Homo sapiens: one gene and its partners. The protein of the gene in region 3 interacts with the protein of the main gene of each other region in a biochemical or structural test. Each region holds a gene or a part of one and is shown on either strand. Other genes may lie near its edges. The genes, in order: AIG1, GORAB, RCHY1, SRPRB and CAMK2G.

Region 1 (3,522 bases), on a different chromosome or scaffold from region 3:
TGCAATACAGATTTAGATAACAAAAAAAGTACCTAGATTATATTACCTTAAACTTCTACAAAAATGCCTTCACCTAGCCAAAATATAAGACCATGCCTTTGGCTTTCATAAAACCATCAAATAAGAAACATTAACCATAAAAATTTTTCTATATATTACACTAAAAACCAATCAAAGACATTATCTACTATGCTAACCAATGTTTTTTTTTTATTTTTATTTACAGACAGGATTTGGCTCTGTCACTCAGGCTGGAGTGCAGTGGCACTATCATAGCTCATTGCAAACTCGAACTCCTGGGCTCAAGTCATCCTCCTGCCCCAGCCCCCACATAGCTGGGACTACAGGCACATGCAAGCACCCCCAAATAATGTTTAATTTTTTGTAGTGGGAGCCTTGCTGTGATGCCCAGGCTGGTCTCGAACTCCTGGGTTTAAGCAAGCCTCCTACCATGGCCTCCCACAGTGCTGGGATTACAGGTGTGAGCCACCATACCCACCCTTAATGTTCTTTAAATAAATATCTGAGTGATAAATTACCTTGAAAAGTCAGTGCCTGGAAAGAACTGTATTTTTCCCAATAAATTGTTATACCTCCTTTCTTTCAACATAAGGACAATACAATCAAATGTGTATTGTTTTTCACCTTAGTTGCCCTGAAGATTATTTAAATTTGTTTCTCAATAGCAATAACTAACCCATCTCTCGTATCTGAAACATATCTTTCTTTTATTTTCAAATTGTAATTTCTTACATTTTTTTGTTATATCACAGTGAAAGTCAATCTGTAATATGTTTTGAAAATAGGCAGAATTCAGGCCAGGCGCGGTGGCTCACACCTGTAATCCCAGCACTTTGGGAGGCCAATGCAGACAGATCACTTGAGGTCAAGAGTTTGAGACCAGTGTGGCCAACATAGTAAAACCCTGTCTCTACTAAAAATACAAAAATTAGCCAGGTGTGGTGGCAGGTGCCTGTAATCCCAGCTACTCGGGAGGCTGAGACAGGAGAATTTCTTGAACCTGGGAGGCGGAGGTTGAAGTGAGCCAAGATCACCACTGCACTCGCCTGGGTGACAGAGTGAAACTCTGTCTCAAAAAAAAAACAAAGAAAATAGGCAGAATTCATATATTAAGACTGCTCTACAGGGTCCTACAATTAATCCATGTAAATGAAAAAACAATGCAACTTAGAGCAGCATTTATCAACCTTGAATGTGCATAGAAATCACCTGATGATCTTATTAAAATGCAGACTCTGATTCAGAAGCTCTGGGGTGGAGCTGGAGATGCCACATTTCTTACAGGCTCCCAGACAAAGTTGATCCTGCTGGTCCTCAGCCCGCACTTTGAGTAGGCAGGGCCTGAACAATATTCTGCCATGACATGAATGAAAAGCCAGTCTAGGAGGAATAATGGGTATGATACGGCCCTAAGAGAGGATGACTCTCAAAATGGCCAGTACTACAAACTAGAGCCAATGGGATTCCCAGATATGTTTCAATCTTTAAAAATCAAGATGTCTTACATCCATCATCAATATTTTAAGTTTTCTAAAAAATCCAGTTCATGGTTTTCAAAGAAGTTGATTCTGACTCATCTGTTAGACTCTACCATATACATATGAATAATGTTCTGGTTGATACATTTTTAAATTCCTATCATTTTGAATGTTTTTGGGAGGAGACAGGACAAGAAAAGAATACTCAATGAAAATTTGGGAAGAGAAAGCTTCCATTTACTTAAACATTTACTAAACACCTATTATACCCCAAATACTACTTTAAGACCTCAAAATACATTTGCCTTTTTCTTTTCATTTATTTATGTTGGTTTTATCCTAATTCTTCTTTATTATCTTTTGGGGCAATTATCATGTAACACACAGCATAATCATTTTGCTAGTGAATGAATCCACATCACTTGAAGAAAATTCATCAGCTGTGATATTGACTAAGAAAGTGTTAATATTTGAGTAACAGCTAGTTTAAATTTTCTTTCTTTCCAGCTTATTTCCAATTAAGTGTATTTCTTCTCCTGGCCTGACATGTTACTTAATGATAGTCTCTGAAATACTTCATAGTAAAGACCTAGTTTTTCCAAAGTTGTCCATGTCAGGCCTCTAAGCCGAAGCTCAGCCATTGTAACCCCTGTGACCTACACATATACATCCAGATGGCCTGCAGGAGCCAAGAAGTCTGGGGCAACCGAAAAACCACAAAAGAAGTAAAACAGCCAATTCCTGCCTTAACTGATTAACCAACATTACAACATTCCACCGTTGTGACTTGTCCCTGCCCTACCTTAACTGATCAACCGACCTTGTGACATTCTTCTTCTGGACAATAAGTCTTATGATCTCCCCACCATGTACCTTGTCACCCCCTTCTCTGCTAACAATAAATAACCACCTTTTACTGTAATTTTCCATTAGCTACCCAACTTCTATAAAGCAACCCCTTCCCCATCTCCCTTCGCTGACTCCTTTCTCAGACTCAGTCCGCCTGCACCCAGGTGAATTAAAAGCTTTATTGCTCACACAAAGCCTGTTTGGTGGTCTCTTCACACAGACACGCTTGACAGTCCAGTCTTTACAAATCCTCATATTGCCCACTGTTACACATATGTATGTCTCCTCCACATAATTTCATGGATGAAGTAGGAAAAAACTTGCATTTTTGTTAAAGCTAAAATTAACCAGTTATCTACTATACATAAAGGGCTAGCTGAGTCACTGCATTTATTTCATATAAGTACAAAAAGAGTTAAGTTTTTTTTCTAAGTCAGAGGCTTTAAAGCCAAGTATACTAGTTTTCTATTACTGTGGTAACCAATTACTATCAATTGAATGGCTTAAATGACACAAATTTATTATTTTACAATTCTGGAGGTCAGAAGTCCAAAATACACTACCATTAAGCTGTCAGCAGGTATGTGTTCCTGGAAACTCTAGGAGGAAAACCATTTTTTTGTCCTCTCCAGCTTCTAGACACCTCTCACACCCCTTGTCTCCTGGCTCCATCCTCCATCTTCAAACCCAGCATTGTCGTATCTCTCTCTGACTTTCTTCCAGTCACATCTTCCTCCAACAAGCTCTTGTCTTCTGTTTCCCTATTCCTTTTAAGGACCCTTGTAATTACATTGGGCCCAATGGGATAACTCAGGATAATTACCCTATTTTAAGGTCAATTGATTTGCAATCTTAATTCCATCTGCAACTTTAATTTCCCTTTGCCATGTAACCTAATGTATTCACAGGTTCCTGGCATGAGAATGTAAACATCTTTGGAGGCCCATTATTCTGCCTACCACACCAAGACAGTGTTCTTTTTCCATTTACTAACTTCAATTTTCCAAAAACACCTTAGTTCTCTTACAGTTTCTCAATACTAGGAAAAGAAACCATTGGAGAATAACAGTATAAGATTACTGGTAGCAACAATGTGTATTTCAGTTTTTGACCATAAGCTCTGAATCTACTGGAATGACCCTCATACCCAAGGAGAGAAATGAATACAGCCAGA
Region 2 (2,606 bases), on a different chromosome or scaffold from region 3:
TTTGAGTGAAGGCAGGCTAAAAGGTTAATTCAGTGGTATGCTAGTTCTGGGGTGGGAGGATGGGGAGCCCTGATTTGTAGCGTTTACATTTCCATGGGATAATTACTACCACCCTGTCCAATTTCAAGCCACCAACGTGATATTACTGAATGCAGAACTGGGAAGAGATACACAAAATCCACATGAACCAGGGTAAGCTAGCTTCAGCACACAGCTGGTTAAATTTATGAGAAGACAGACAAGAGATGGAGAAAGTGGAAAATTGTTCTCTTGATTAATAAATTAGAAAAAAAGAAAAATTCTGATGGAGAAAGATACGGACAGTGGTCGGGAGATGAATATAAATGGAACAGAGCACACCCAGCAAAATGATACTGGGTGAGGGCAAGAAGTAAACATCAAGTAGAAAACCTCAGGATAGCTATATGCAGGATTTCTCAACCTTGGTGCTACTGACAATTTGGGCCATATAATTATTTGTTGTGAGAAGCTGTCCTGCACTGCAAGATGCTAAACAGCATCACTGGCTTCTACCCATTAGTTGCCAGTAATTCCCAAAATTTATGACAACCAAAAATGTCCCCAGGCATTGCCAAATGTCCCTTATTGGACACAAATGCTCCCAGTTGAGAATCCTTGGGTTAAGTTGTTCTCATTCTCTCCACTACTCCTCTTACACTCTTACTAGGAAATTTTACATAGTTACACATGTATAAACTCTGTTGACAGGTAATCTTATGTGAAGTCTTATGTGAAATAGGGCAATTCTACTAGAGAAGTCACCTTGCAATCTCACTTTTTTTCTTCTGCATTAGGTCAGTACAAAAAGAAGAGTTATCGTGTCTTAATTTATTGTCTTTTGCCTTTTCTATAAAATTTGTTGCTTTTCTTTTTGCAACAAGAGGGTCCTTCCTCTCTTGCAAGAAAAAAGATTGATTTCCAACTAGTTCTTTAATTTCATTACCATTAGCAGTTGTGAAGGCCATGCTGCTTTACCTGTTATGAGTGCCTACATCAACTTAGTGTAATAAGTAGCTTCTAGTACAAGAGTTATAGCAAAAAAGAAACAGGTATATCTCCTAATTTAGGATTCTCTGTCTTGGAAGAAAATACAGTGAAAATAATAAATGGCTTTCATTTTAGAAAACTCAGGGTTCAAAACCTTCCTGACATTTACCATGTGTACCCATTTCGGTCAAGGCTTCTTGTGGATACAAAGAACAGATATCCAGTCAAACTAGCTCAGGTAAAAATTGGGTTTTATTGTAGGATACACGAGGCAATTTCATAGTCATGTCATCAGAATCAAAGGCTATTCTTTTCAATGCTTAGAAGCGACACATTTTCTCTCATTTCAGCTTTCCTATCATACTCACAGGCCAATATGGCCACCACCTGCACTCTGTATCAAATTCACTCCACCCAATCTCTCAGTGATCCAATTCCACACTCTCAGAGGAGAACATAGGTTTGCCCGGCTCATCTCAGTTTAAACAGAACTCTTAGTGTCAGGCCATGCCGTGAACCACTATTTAGCCTATGGATTAAATGTACTGGAGTCGGTAGCCCATCACTATTCTAATTAGGTATGCCCCAGGTCAGCATCCTGAGTCCAAAACACAGCCAGGTTCCTCTGGAAGGGGTTGGGGAAGAGGCATGCAATAACTGAAAATTCCGGCACAGTGACTCTGAGCAGTTACTTAAGCTGAGTCTTGGTCTACCTGTAAAACAATGATGATAATAATACCTCATAGGAGTTTTGAAGATTAAACAGTATAAATGGGGCAAACTTCCAGTTTTGTGCCTGGTAGGTGCTCAAGAAACAGAACTTCTCATTTAGAACACCAGAATCAAAAAGTACTGTTAATATATTAGTAAGCATGAATCTAAAATTAAGATTATGGAAAATTTAGGGACCTGGTATTTATACTTGAAAACTCATTTACATAATGTTAATTTATCCTATTTCCTTTTTTAACTGTAAATATAGTAAATGTAAAAATGAGAGCACCCATTATCTTTCAATAACCCTCTATGTTAAAAGAATTGTTCTAAAGGAACTCTACTGGATACCTAGTTCCCTTATCTCCATACTTTATAACATACCCTGTTCATGTAATGTTCTTGCAACAAGACAAGAGTTCTGACATTCTCTATAGGTGTATGAATACCCTGCCCTGACCCTGCCTCAAACCTCCCTTTTCTGCAAGTCTGTGGTCTCCTTCAGCCAGTCAAAGTCAATCAGTAGAGATTTACAGTCTGGATTCATGAATACTGAATTGAAATTAACATTTGCGAACAGGTCCCTTGGTTTCCATTGATCTATCACCCTGGATAAATCACTGAAGATTTTGTATTTTGTTTATTTATTTAAAGTCCTTCTGGCCAGAAATACGAATATATATTCTCCCACAGAGTGATTTAATGTTTAAAATATTGATTAGTTTCACAAACTGCACTACCAGCCTATGGTCAGGTGGGTAATACCAAATTAGTGTATGATGACATTCTGGAACAAAATAATAAGAGCATTATACATAACACAGTAAGACAGAGTGAACTGGAAATGTAATTATAGAACTGTTTTGTTATTTTAAAGGGGGATG
Region 3 (3,522 bases):
AAGAAAAGGAACTGTAGGTCAGATATTCTGAGGTACATATTTTAAAATATCTACTTGTTAATACTGCTTTTCAAAAAAGCAATATAGTTGCACTTGGAAATACATGAAAATTAGCATGCTTCCAAAACATATTAGAAGTTAAGCTTATTGCAAAAACACTGTAATATTTTTAAAATTATACAAACTAAATTATATACCTTGTGTCTTCCTTGAAGATTCATAGCTAGGCATAAGTTACATTTCAAACAATGGAAAAAATCTTCCTTTGGACCAATCCTAGCAAAACACATGAAAGCCAAAAGATTAGATTATTTTTTACTACAGTCATGATTTGTTCATTATGTAAAACACAAGTTTAGTCTCTGTAAAAAAAATTTCCAGCCACAATGGAGAATATGGGATAAATCCCTATCTCCCCAACATCCCTCTCCAAATGTAAGCACTATACACAGAGTGGTATCTACCCTTCTAGGGCTTTTTTTTCTTTTTCTATAAAATTGCAAAAAGAGAGAAACACAGACACACACACACATTTCGGGTTTGATTTCTTACATTAATGGATTCTTTCTACAGATGCCATTCTGCAACTTTTTTTCACTTGATATATTCTGAGGATTTTATGTCTGTCTACACAGAACCACTTCATTCTTCTTAATAGCTACATTAATGGCATGGATGTATACTAATTTTTTTAAATATTCCCTCAGAAAGATCATAATTTATGATCTTTAGTTGCTACAATGATACAGTAAACATCCTTGTCCAGACATCACTTAGTTCACATGTTGATTATTTTTTACGAGATTCCTAGAAGTGAAACTACTGAGTCAGAAGATGTTGCAACATTAATTGTGATACTGCCAAACTGACCTCCAAATAGACAGTACCAATTTATACTTCCACCAACACTGCATGAGAGTAACCATGTTCCCCACACTTTGGGTAACATGGTTACTTGTATTATAGACAAACAAAAGATGTCATTTTAATTTGCATTTCACAAATAATGAGACAGGGACTGTACATTAATGAACTACTTGGATTTCTCTGTGGATTGTCTGTTCATATGTTCTGTCCATTTTTCTACTGAAGTATTTGTTTTTAACCAATTTACTGGTAAAAAATATATCATGAATATTAGTTATTTATATAATGAATATCAATGTTTTCATTCGCATGTATTATATTTATATATCACCAATATCAATTTTTTATTTGCATATTTTATATTTACTTTTCTGGTCTGTGATTTCTCTTAACTTTGTCATATAGCCATTTTTAATTACTATGTGGTAAAAAGTCATCAATATTTTCCTGTATAGCTTATGCTTTCTGCCTCTTGTTTAGGAAACTTTTGTAACCTATAGATCATAAACAGACTCTCCTATGTATACTTCTAGTACTTACAGCTTTTCATTTTTATATTTTTCTTTAATCCATTTGAAATTTGCTATATATGGCAAAGGTTAGATTGCTACTTGTCCCTAAATTTCTATTCTCCACTTCTTCTACAATGATAGGGTATTTAGCTAGGCACTGAGCTATTCAGAACTGTCCTGAATAAAGACTATTTTCCAACATACCTGGACGTTGGGAACAGAAGAGATACATGAAAATTCTGCATTGTACCCTCAAGAGGAAAAATATGCCTTCCCTTCACCTAACTAGCCTTTCTACAGACCAGAATATGAGGCATTTTAGACTACAGAGACAAGAAAATATCTTATGGGTGACAAGGCAAAAAACAAGAAGAGCCTGAGTTCCTGTTTAGCTACACAACTCAGATTTATTTCCATGAGAAATGAACTTCTGCCTTTCTTGAACCACCATTACTTTGGGTTTCTGTCACAAGATGCTAAATCCATACTCTAATGAATACAGTTTGAAGAGTCAATTTTTGGTTTCCGAATGGATAATCAATTATCTTAATACTACCCTTTCCTGATTTGAAATGTCACTTTTGCCATAAATTCATATGTATAAATATTTGTCTGTGTATATACACACACACATATTTATCTATTCGTCTATTCCTGCACAAACAGCAAACTATTTGAATTACTATAGCTTTATCATGTTTTGATATGTGGAACGGCAATCCACTCTTCGTTGTCCTTCCTTCAAAATTTACTCAGCTATTGTGAATTTTCTCTTACAAATGAACTTTAGAATAGGCTGTCAAACTCCATAAGTAAAATTCTGCAGGGACGTTTCCACTACTGCCAAAGATAGAATAACGGAGATCAGACCTACCCTCCCATCTGAAAAAATAATGACAAAAGACAGAATATATGAAACAGCAGTTTCACTGAACATCAGGCAACAACACAGAGTGATCTGTGAGAGATAAGAAACAAAGTAAGTGAGCCCTAAAATTGCTCATTTATTGCCTAGAGAGTTTTGAGGCCAGGACAGGTTAGAAGAACTAAGGGTGAGCTAGGAAGACATCATGATTGAAATGATGAGCTGAGACAGTCTAGAGAAACCAAGACAGATTCATAGGACAGAGCATCAGATAGGAGAGAGCTGCACAGAGAAACCTCTGAAATATTTAGTAGGATACCCATCAGCACATGGATGTAAGAAAACTACCCAAAGCCAGGGAAACAACCTTCTAAAGAATGAGAACAGTACTACTCACACATGGCTAGGAACAGTGCCTGATCCCATCAAACAGACTGGGGAAACTCATAATTCGCAGGCTCCGGGTGGAGTATTCAGAAGGATATTGCCTCAACAGTGGAGAATAGCCCTGGGATAAGCCCTTCTGTAGATCTACCTAACAAATTAGAAAAGTAAATCCCAGAAAGTCTAAACTGTTTCCAAGTAACTTAACTGCATCCCAAAATAAAGCTCAAGAAGATTTATAGGAATACAAAAATACCCAGCACTAAACATGATAAAAAGAAAAATCACATCTGATATCCAACCCACAATAACCAGGCAACAAAGAGGCAGAAAAACACAACCTAAAATGAGAAGAATAATCAATCAATCAACCCAGAACAGACACAGATGTTAGAATTAATACAGGGCATTAAAAGTTATTATAACTGTATACCATTACATTAAAAAAGTATTAAATATGAAAAATATGTTTAAAGACCCAGATCAAACTTCTAGACATAAAAACTACAATGTCTGAGATTTAAAAATACACTGATGAAACTAATGGCAAGTTTGATATTGCTAACAAAAAGGTTAGTCAACTTGAAGGCACAGTAACAGAAACTATCCGAAATGAAATAGGAAGAAAAGGGAATTTTTTTAAAACGACAGAGCATGAGTAAGCTGTGAGACAACTTCAAGCAACCTAACATACATGTGTTCAGTTGAGCCTAACGCTGCCTCCTACATATTTTAAGATCGTCCTAAAAGGCTTTGCTGTACATAGTTAACTGTAACCTAACTGGATGTGTTTACCTACAGTAACCTACTCTAGTACCAATCAATCACCAAGTTTCATCCAATCACAGGCAGTCCTCGGTTCAAACTGTGTTTAAATAAGGCAAATGCTGAGCT
Region 4 (3,522 bases), on a different chromosome or scaffold from region 3:
TAATAACAACTGTAAATAATGGAAATAATTCTTAGTAGCAGCAATCCCCAAAAAACTCAATTATTATTGCAAGAAAACATGATGGCACCTTGCTTATTGCAGGCTATTAAGAATGATGGTGTATTCTTCAGACCCATACTGTCAATGAGGACTTGATACAGAAACTCAGCCACATCTTTCACCTCTCGCTGGAATGCTGCACTATCCACAACAAACACAATAGCCCTGGAGGGAGAAAACAAGAAAAACTGGCATGTGAACGTGTAACAGGACATCATTATCTTGAAAAACTATCCTGAACTTCTTCAAAGTCAATCTTGGTGATTAACACTCAGCAGACACACATGCAGGTCTGTGCATATGTTATCATATAACATAAATCCTCATTTAACAAGGAACTATTGAGTGCTACTGTGTATCAATGACTGAAGCTGAAAAAAGACAGTAAGAAATGATGCCTGTCCTCCAAGACAAATCATCATATAGAGAACCATATGATAAATGCCAAGACAAAACTATGCACATGTGTAACAGGAATAAAGAGAAAGATCATTTAAATGAGACCAGGTCAAAGGCAACTTTAAGGAGAATGTAACAGTTGAGTTGAATCTTAGCTAGACCAAAAATTGGGGCACAGGCTGTCTGGAAAGTACAGGTTGAGTATCCCCAATCCAAAAATCCAAAGTCTAAAATCCAAAACACTTCTGGTTCCAAGCATTTTGGATAAGGGATACTCAGCCTACAGTATGTTCAAGCCACAAATACGTGAAACACATTCCCTGGGGAAGTCAAGGTAAGCTGGTACACAGGGAGATGGGGAAATGAAGGAGAACCAAGTCAGACAGTGAGGCGTGACACAATGACCTGTGGAGTTCATGCTTTTCTGTCTTATGAAGAATATTGGTGCCTAAATGGAAGACAAAGCAATCTTAGAGGGCGCTTGAACTAGAAGCACAGTGACCAGGTAGGGCCTGAACTAAGGCAGCCATAGTGGGACTCCTCATGTGACAGAAACAAAGAGATATCAAAGCTAAAGTGCAGCAGCCCAGGGAAACTGCAGACAACAGGTCTTAGGGGGCCGGGTGCGGTGGCTCACGCCTGTAATCCCAGCACTTTGGGGGGCCGAGACAGGCAGATCACTTGAGGTCAGGAGTTCGAGACAAGTCTGGGCAACATGATGAAACCCAATCTCTACTAAAAATATAACAATTAGCCAGATATGGTGGCGGGAGCCTGTAATCCCAGCTACTTGAGAGTCTGAGGCAGAAGAGTTACTTGAACCCAGAAGGCGAAGGTTGCAGTGAACTGAGATCATGCCACTGCACTCCAGCCTGGGTGACAAAGCGAAACTCCATCTCAAAGAAAACAAAAAAACAAAAAAACCGGCCAGGCGCGGTGGCTCACGCCTGTAATCCCAGCACTTTGGGAAGCCGAGGCGGGCGGATCACGAGGTCAGGAGATCGAGACCATCCTGGCTAACACGGCGAAACCCTGTCTCTCCTAAAAATACAAAAAATTAGCTTGGTGTGATGGCGGGTGCCTGTTGTCCCAGCTACTCAGGGGACTGAGGCAGGAGAATGGCGTAAACCTGGGAGGCAGAGCTTGCAGCGAGCCAAGATCGCGCCACTGCACTCCAGCCTGGGCAACAGAGCGAGACTCCGTCTCAAAAAAAAAAAAAAAAATACAAGCCTTATGGACAAGGGTTTGAATGCCCAGGTGGAGATAAGAGACATGCAATGGCCAACATGCAGCTGGGGAGCTAGAACTGAATGCCCTGCACAAAGCCTACAACTTAAAATAGTCTCAGGGAGGTCGGGGCTTGCAAAAAAAGTTCCCTTAGAAACAGCGGGCCTCCACTGCCTCACACAGATATAGGGTATGAATTTATACTCTCTCCAGGTGTAAGACCCCCAAGGGGAAAGGCTTACATAAAAATTGGGCCAGACTTATTGAAGCCCTATGGCCCCAACAGAAGGAACTATGAACCGCTTATGGAGCAAGGCTTTCATATCCTACGGGATTAAAGAACCACCACAATATCAATGATGTGTCACTCTTGAAGAAAGGTTCTGGAGCAAAAATTACAAGGCACAGAATAAAATAATTATGAGGGAGAATAACTGGTACCCCAAAGAGAATAATCAGCACCCCAAAACTAAGATAATAAAGCTATCTATAAAGTAAATGTTTAAAATTATTTAAGAAAATACTACAAACTACAATAAAAAATAGAATAGTATAAAAAGAAACAGGCTGGTTTGAAAAGGTAAGTATTTTAGACAAATATAGTAAATGATATTAATAAATCAATGGAAAAGTTAAGCAGAGATCATGCTCAGCTGAAAATAATGTAATAAACTAGAAAACAAATCTGAGGGAATCTTACAATATGCGAAGTAGAAAGATCTGGAAGATACGATAGAGAGGAAACAAGAAAGGCAAAAATAATAAGGTTCAATAACATTCATAAGAATTCCAGAGTGTGAGAAATGATCATGGGGAAACAGCACTACCTGGAGAAACGATGGTGAGAATTTTCCAAAACTGAGGAGAATCTTTGGTTTGGAATAGCACAACTGAATTCCAAGAATGATAAAGCTAAATCCATCCTTGAACAGAAGAAAATCTATCCCTGGATAGAAGGTCAAATCAGGCAGACTTACTACAGTGAAATGACAATTAGACTGACTGGCAAAAACATTCTCATCTGCAACAGATGGATGAGGTCAGGAGTGATGCGGCTGCCACCCAGGACTCTGCACTCAGCTAAAAGAGACATTCCAAAATGCTGGCCAAATAGAGTTACAAATGAACAAAGACTGAAAACATTTGACTACTCATCACCCTCTCTGGAAACACTTCTAAAAGATATACTCAGTGAGGGAAAACTGAATCTAAAGGGAAGAAGTAAAATTCAAGAAGCAATGGGGAGCAAAAGACCATAAGCATCCTGGTAATTCTCATCACTGAATGTAAGAGGAAAAAAAAGTATGGATGGGGGTTAAAAAGGAGCATAAATAAAAGGAAGATGTGAGGAAGATGAAAGTTAAAGTGTTTAAGGTTCAGGAAAAGGAAACTGATATTATTGGATTCAGACAATCAAATAGGCAATGTTTAAAAGATGGGGGAGGGGAACCATGATAAGAACAGCAACAGCATATGTTCAAATCAGGAGAGGGAAAATAGCCACTAGGGAAACTTGGCGAAGCCAGAAAGTAGGATTAAAAAAAAGTCACATACCAATATAGTAAATGTCTTTTCAACTTGCATGTTATCATGATTATAATTTATTTGAACTAAGTTTTATCTTCATATTTTGCATGTTTTATTTACCCAAAATACATGAATCACAGAGTAGTTATACTGCAAATCATAAAATATTTAGAACTGGCAATAGAAAAAGAAAAAACATTTAATTGGAAATAAAAACCCAATTATGGCAAAATTTACCAGCTCTAGATTTGTCTCAATTGTCCAAGGAATTTTCTTATCTGTGACAAATTGTTCATCACCACCATCTTG
Region 5 (3,522 bases), on a different chromosome or scaffold from region 3:
CTTCACACTCTTGAAGGCAGTGTAGCTGGGATTTAAACTCAGATCTATCTTGCCTCTGACCCCATGCTCTTAATACTGTTATGCTGAGACTCAGGAAGCACTACATCCCCAACACAGTTCCTCGCTGTCACGATTTCCCCATCATCCCACTCCCACCCCCACAGACCTGACTTCCGACTCTGCCCTTCTTCCTGGCTCAGCGCTGAGGCAAGGCCCACTGCACATCCTGGGGGCTTTCTACTCCCCTCATCCCAGGCCATGTTTTTCCACCCACACTTCTCATATTTCTTTGGGCCCCAGACTCAGGGGCCCCTGCCTGGTCTCAACAGCACCTCCAGTCTACCCCCCACCCCCAGCAGAGGCCATGCTCCCAGAGCTTACTACCACGGGCAGGTGGGTGGGACTGACAGCTGTGGTGGGGGTCCCTGAGGGGCTTCAGGACGAGCCAGGGAGACGGAAGCCAGAATGTGCCTCCCTCACACTTACTGGCTGAGGAGCAGAGAGAAGGCTGGGGCTGCATGCCTGCAGAGGGGGCTGTTCTGTCCCGGGAGCTCCGTCCTTCAGGCACCGAGCTGCCATTCCCAGTGCGGAGCGGGGCAGCTAGCCAGCCAGGGCAGGGCAGGGCAGGGCAAGGCAGAGCAGCCAAAACAAACAGAACAAGGCAGGTGAGCGAGCAAGCCAGACAGGCCCCGAGCCCATGGCGCTGCAGAGCCGGGGCAAGGGGACGCCTCGCCTCAGGCTGCTGTGGACACTGGACGACATCCCACGCCGCCGCCTCTGCCAGAGAGGCCTCCCAGCTGAGGGCACCAGGCAGGTGCCCAGACCTGGGCTGTGGCTTCCAGACGAGCCTTACAACAGCCTGTCCAAGGACCCCTGATCCCGGGGAAGATGTTCCAGGGGGCCAGGCCACAGGGTCCAGAGCCCAGCAGTGACAGCGCCTCCTATGTTGCCAGCAGTGCCGGAATCAAAACTGATCTGACCTCACTCACAGGGGCCTGGAGCTACTATGATTCACTTCCTCGCAGCTTTCTGCTATTTTTTTTGGTTCCAAAAGGTTTGGTGCCCCCTTGCCACCCAGGGCATGCTCTCCCAGCTCTGTCCTAGAGTGTTCCTCTGTCTTTTCTGATGTCCTGGCCCAAGGTCACTTACTGAATTCAGGCAAAGGGAGCAATTCCAGGAGGCCCAATCAAAGAGCAGGACAGAGATTCCCGGGGGTCCAGCCTGCCATGCCCTCCCACCGCCCTGGCACTCTAGCCAGGCCCAAGCTTAGGCTAGTGGTCCTTACGGGCCCACCAGGACATGACCAAATGTGGCCTCACGGTTGTCAGATTAGTTCCAACTCCATCATTCAGGCCAAAATCTTAGGACTAGAGTGACCAACTCATCCCAGTGTTCCCAGGACTATCTGGGTTTTATATTTATATATATATATATATATATATATATATTTTTTTTTTTTTTTTTTTCTTGAGACAGAGTCTCGCTCTGTCACCCAGGCTGGAGTGCAGTGGTGCAATCTCAGCTCACTGCAACCTCCACCTCCCGGGTTCAAGCCATTTTCATGCCTCAGTCTCCCGAGTAGCTGGGATTACAGGACCCCGCCACCACACCCGGCTAATTTTTTTTTTTTTTTTTTTTTTTTTTGAGAAGAAGTTTCGCTCTTGTTGCCCAGGCTGGAGTGCAATGGGGTGATCTCGGCTCACTGCAACCTCCACCTCCCAGGTTCAAGCGATTCTCCCACCTCCGCCTCCCGAGTAGCTACGATTACAGGCACCTGCCACCACACCTGGCTAATTTTTTATATTTTTAGTAGAGATGGAGTTTCACCATGTTGGCCAGGCTGGTCTTGAACTTCTGACCTTCAGGTGATCCACCCACCTTGGCCTCCCAAAGTGTTGGGATTACAGGCGTGAGCCACTACGCCCGGCCTTTTTTTGTATTTTTAGTAGAGACGGGGTTTCATCATGTTGGCCAGGCTGGTTTTGAACTCCTGACCTCAAGTGATCCACTTGCCTCGGCCTCCCAAAGTGTGGGGATTACAGGTGTGAGTCACCGCACCTGGCCTATTTATTTGTTCCTAATTTTTTTTTTTTAATAGAGACAAGGTCTTGCTATGTTGCCCAAGCTTGTCTCAAACTCCTGGTCTCAAGCAATCCTTCTGCCCTGGCCCTCCCAAAGTTCTGGGTATTACAGGTGTGAGCCAGCACTCCTGGCCCATCACAGTCTTAAAACCAAAAGTTCTGTGTCCGAGGAAAACCAGGAGTGATTGGTCACTCTATTTATGACTCATAGCACTTACAGGCTACTTCGGCAGGGACTTGGGGTACCCCTGTTCTTGGATGGCACATCATTATCAGCAACAGGAACAGTTCTCTGAGCCCTGGCCCCTGGAGAATCTCTAGCTTAGCTATTTTAGACTTGGGGTCAAAGAAGAGAAGCCTCTTGCCCAACTCAGCAACACCAGACAGGGGCCTCATATCTTGGCTCGTGGAAAGTAGCTTTTATACCAAGCCCTCTCCTAGGGGCATAGGAGCCAGCATTCCCAGTTCTGGGGACAGAAAAGGCAGGTGCCCCATTGGAGCCCAGGTACCTGGGTCACTGCTGGAGTCCTTCCCCCTCCAAGGGCCAGCACCTACCTTTGAGGTCCTCATCTTCTGTGGTGGTGTTGCAGCTCTCTGTGGAGCCCTGTAGGCCAAAAAGAACATGTTTCTATATGCTCCATCCCTTGGAAGCCAGAGGAGCAAAGCAGAACAAAAGCAGAGTTTCTGCTCCTACAAGAGGTGCAAGGAGGAATTGTGGAAGGTTCTGCTTCCACCCTGGCTGTCTGACTCTTCCCAAATCCCCTCCCTAGTCTTCCCCCAGTTGGTAAATGCCACCATCTACCCAGTTACTCAGGCTAAAACCTGGAGTCATCCTCAATCCTTCTCTTTCTCTTTTTCCCTTATATTCAGATCGCCCAATCTAAAATAAAATCTTCTGGTTCTGCCTCCAAAGTAAACCCCATGTCTTACCTCTTCACTTCCAATGCACAGCTACAACCTGACTCCAGGCCACCAGCATCTCACACCTGAACCATGATAACAGCTTCATGGTCTCCCTAACTTCCACACTTACCTCCTCCCTAGAGTTTTTCTTTTTTGAAACAGAGTTTTGCTCTTGTTGCACAGGCTGGAGTGCAATGGCATGATCTCGGCTCACTGCAACCTCTGCCTCCCGGGTTCAAGTGATTCTCCTGTCTCAGCCTCCTGAGTAGCTGGGATTACAGGTGCCTGCCACCATGCCTGGCTAATTTTTGTATTTTTATTAGAGATGGGGTTTCATCATGTTGGCCAGGCTGGTCTCGAGCTCCTGACCTTTGCTGATCCACTCGCCTCGGCCTTCCAAAGTGCAGGGATTACGGGCGTGAGCCACCACGCCCGGGCCTCCCTAGAGTTCTTGATCATGAGGCCAGAGTGGTGTTTTAAAGTGTCAACTAGATTCTGTTACTCCTGCTAAGAACTCCCAATAGCTTCTCCTTGCTGC

Evidence for each region.
Region 1: the proteins of RCHY1 (region 3) and AIG1 form a complex in vitro, tested with the Homo sapiens proteins (one study listed by BioGRID).
Region 2: the proteins of RCHY1 (region 3) and GORAB form a complex in vitro, tested with the Homo sapiens proteins (one study listed by BioGRID).
Region 4: of the proteins of RCHY1 (region 3) and SRPRB, one has a biochemical effect on the other in vitro, tested with the Homo sapiens proteins (one study listed by BioGRID).
Region 5: of the proteins of RCHY1 (region 3) and CAMK2G, one has a biochemical effect on the other in vitro, tested with the Homo sapiens proteins (one study listed by BioGRID).

The regions. Positions count from the first base shown.
Region 1 is NC_000006.12:143,063,867-143,067,388, reverse strand, and holds part of AIG1 (androgen-induced gene 1 protein), read right to left. Parts: intron 1-3,522. UniProt on the Homo sapiens protein: Hydrolyzes bioactive fatty-acid esters of hydroxy-fatty acids (FAHFAs), but not other major classes of lipids. Show a preference for FAHFAs with branching distal from the carboxylate head group of the lipids.
Region 2 is NC_000001.11:170,549,151-170,551,756, reverse strand, and holds part of GORAB (RAB6-interacting golgin), read right to left. Parts: intron 1-2,606.
Region 3 is NC_000004.12:75,493,904-75,497,425, forward strand, and holds part of RCHY1 (RING finger and CHY zinc finger domain-containing protein 1), read right to left. Parts: intron 277-3,522; coding exon 198-276; intron 1-197. UniProt on the Homo sapiens protein: E3 ubiquitin-protein ligase that mediates ubiquitination of target proteins, including p53/TP53, TP73, HDAC1 and CDKN1B. Mediates ubiquitination and degradation of p53/TP53; preferentially acts on tetrameric p53/TP53.
Region 4 is NC_000003.12:133,812,293-133,815,814, reverse strand, and holds part of SRPRB (signal recognition particle receptor subunit beta), read right to left. Parts: intron 226-3,522; coding exon 89-225; intron 1-88. UniProt on the Homo sapiens protein: Component of the signal recognition particle (SRP) complex receptor (SR). Ensures, in conjunction with the SRP complex, the correct targeting of the nascent secretory proteins to the endoplasmic reticulum membrane system.
Region 5 is NC_000010.11:73,819,046-73,822,567, forward strand, and holds part of CAMK2G (calcium/calmodulin-dependent protein kinase type II subunit gamma), read right to left. Parts: intron 2,686-3,522; coding exon 2,637-2,685; intron 601-2,636; coding exon 487-600; intron 1-486.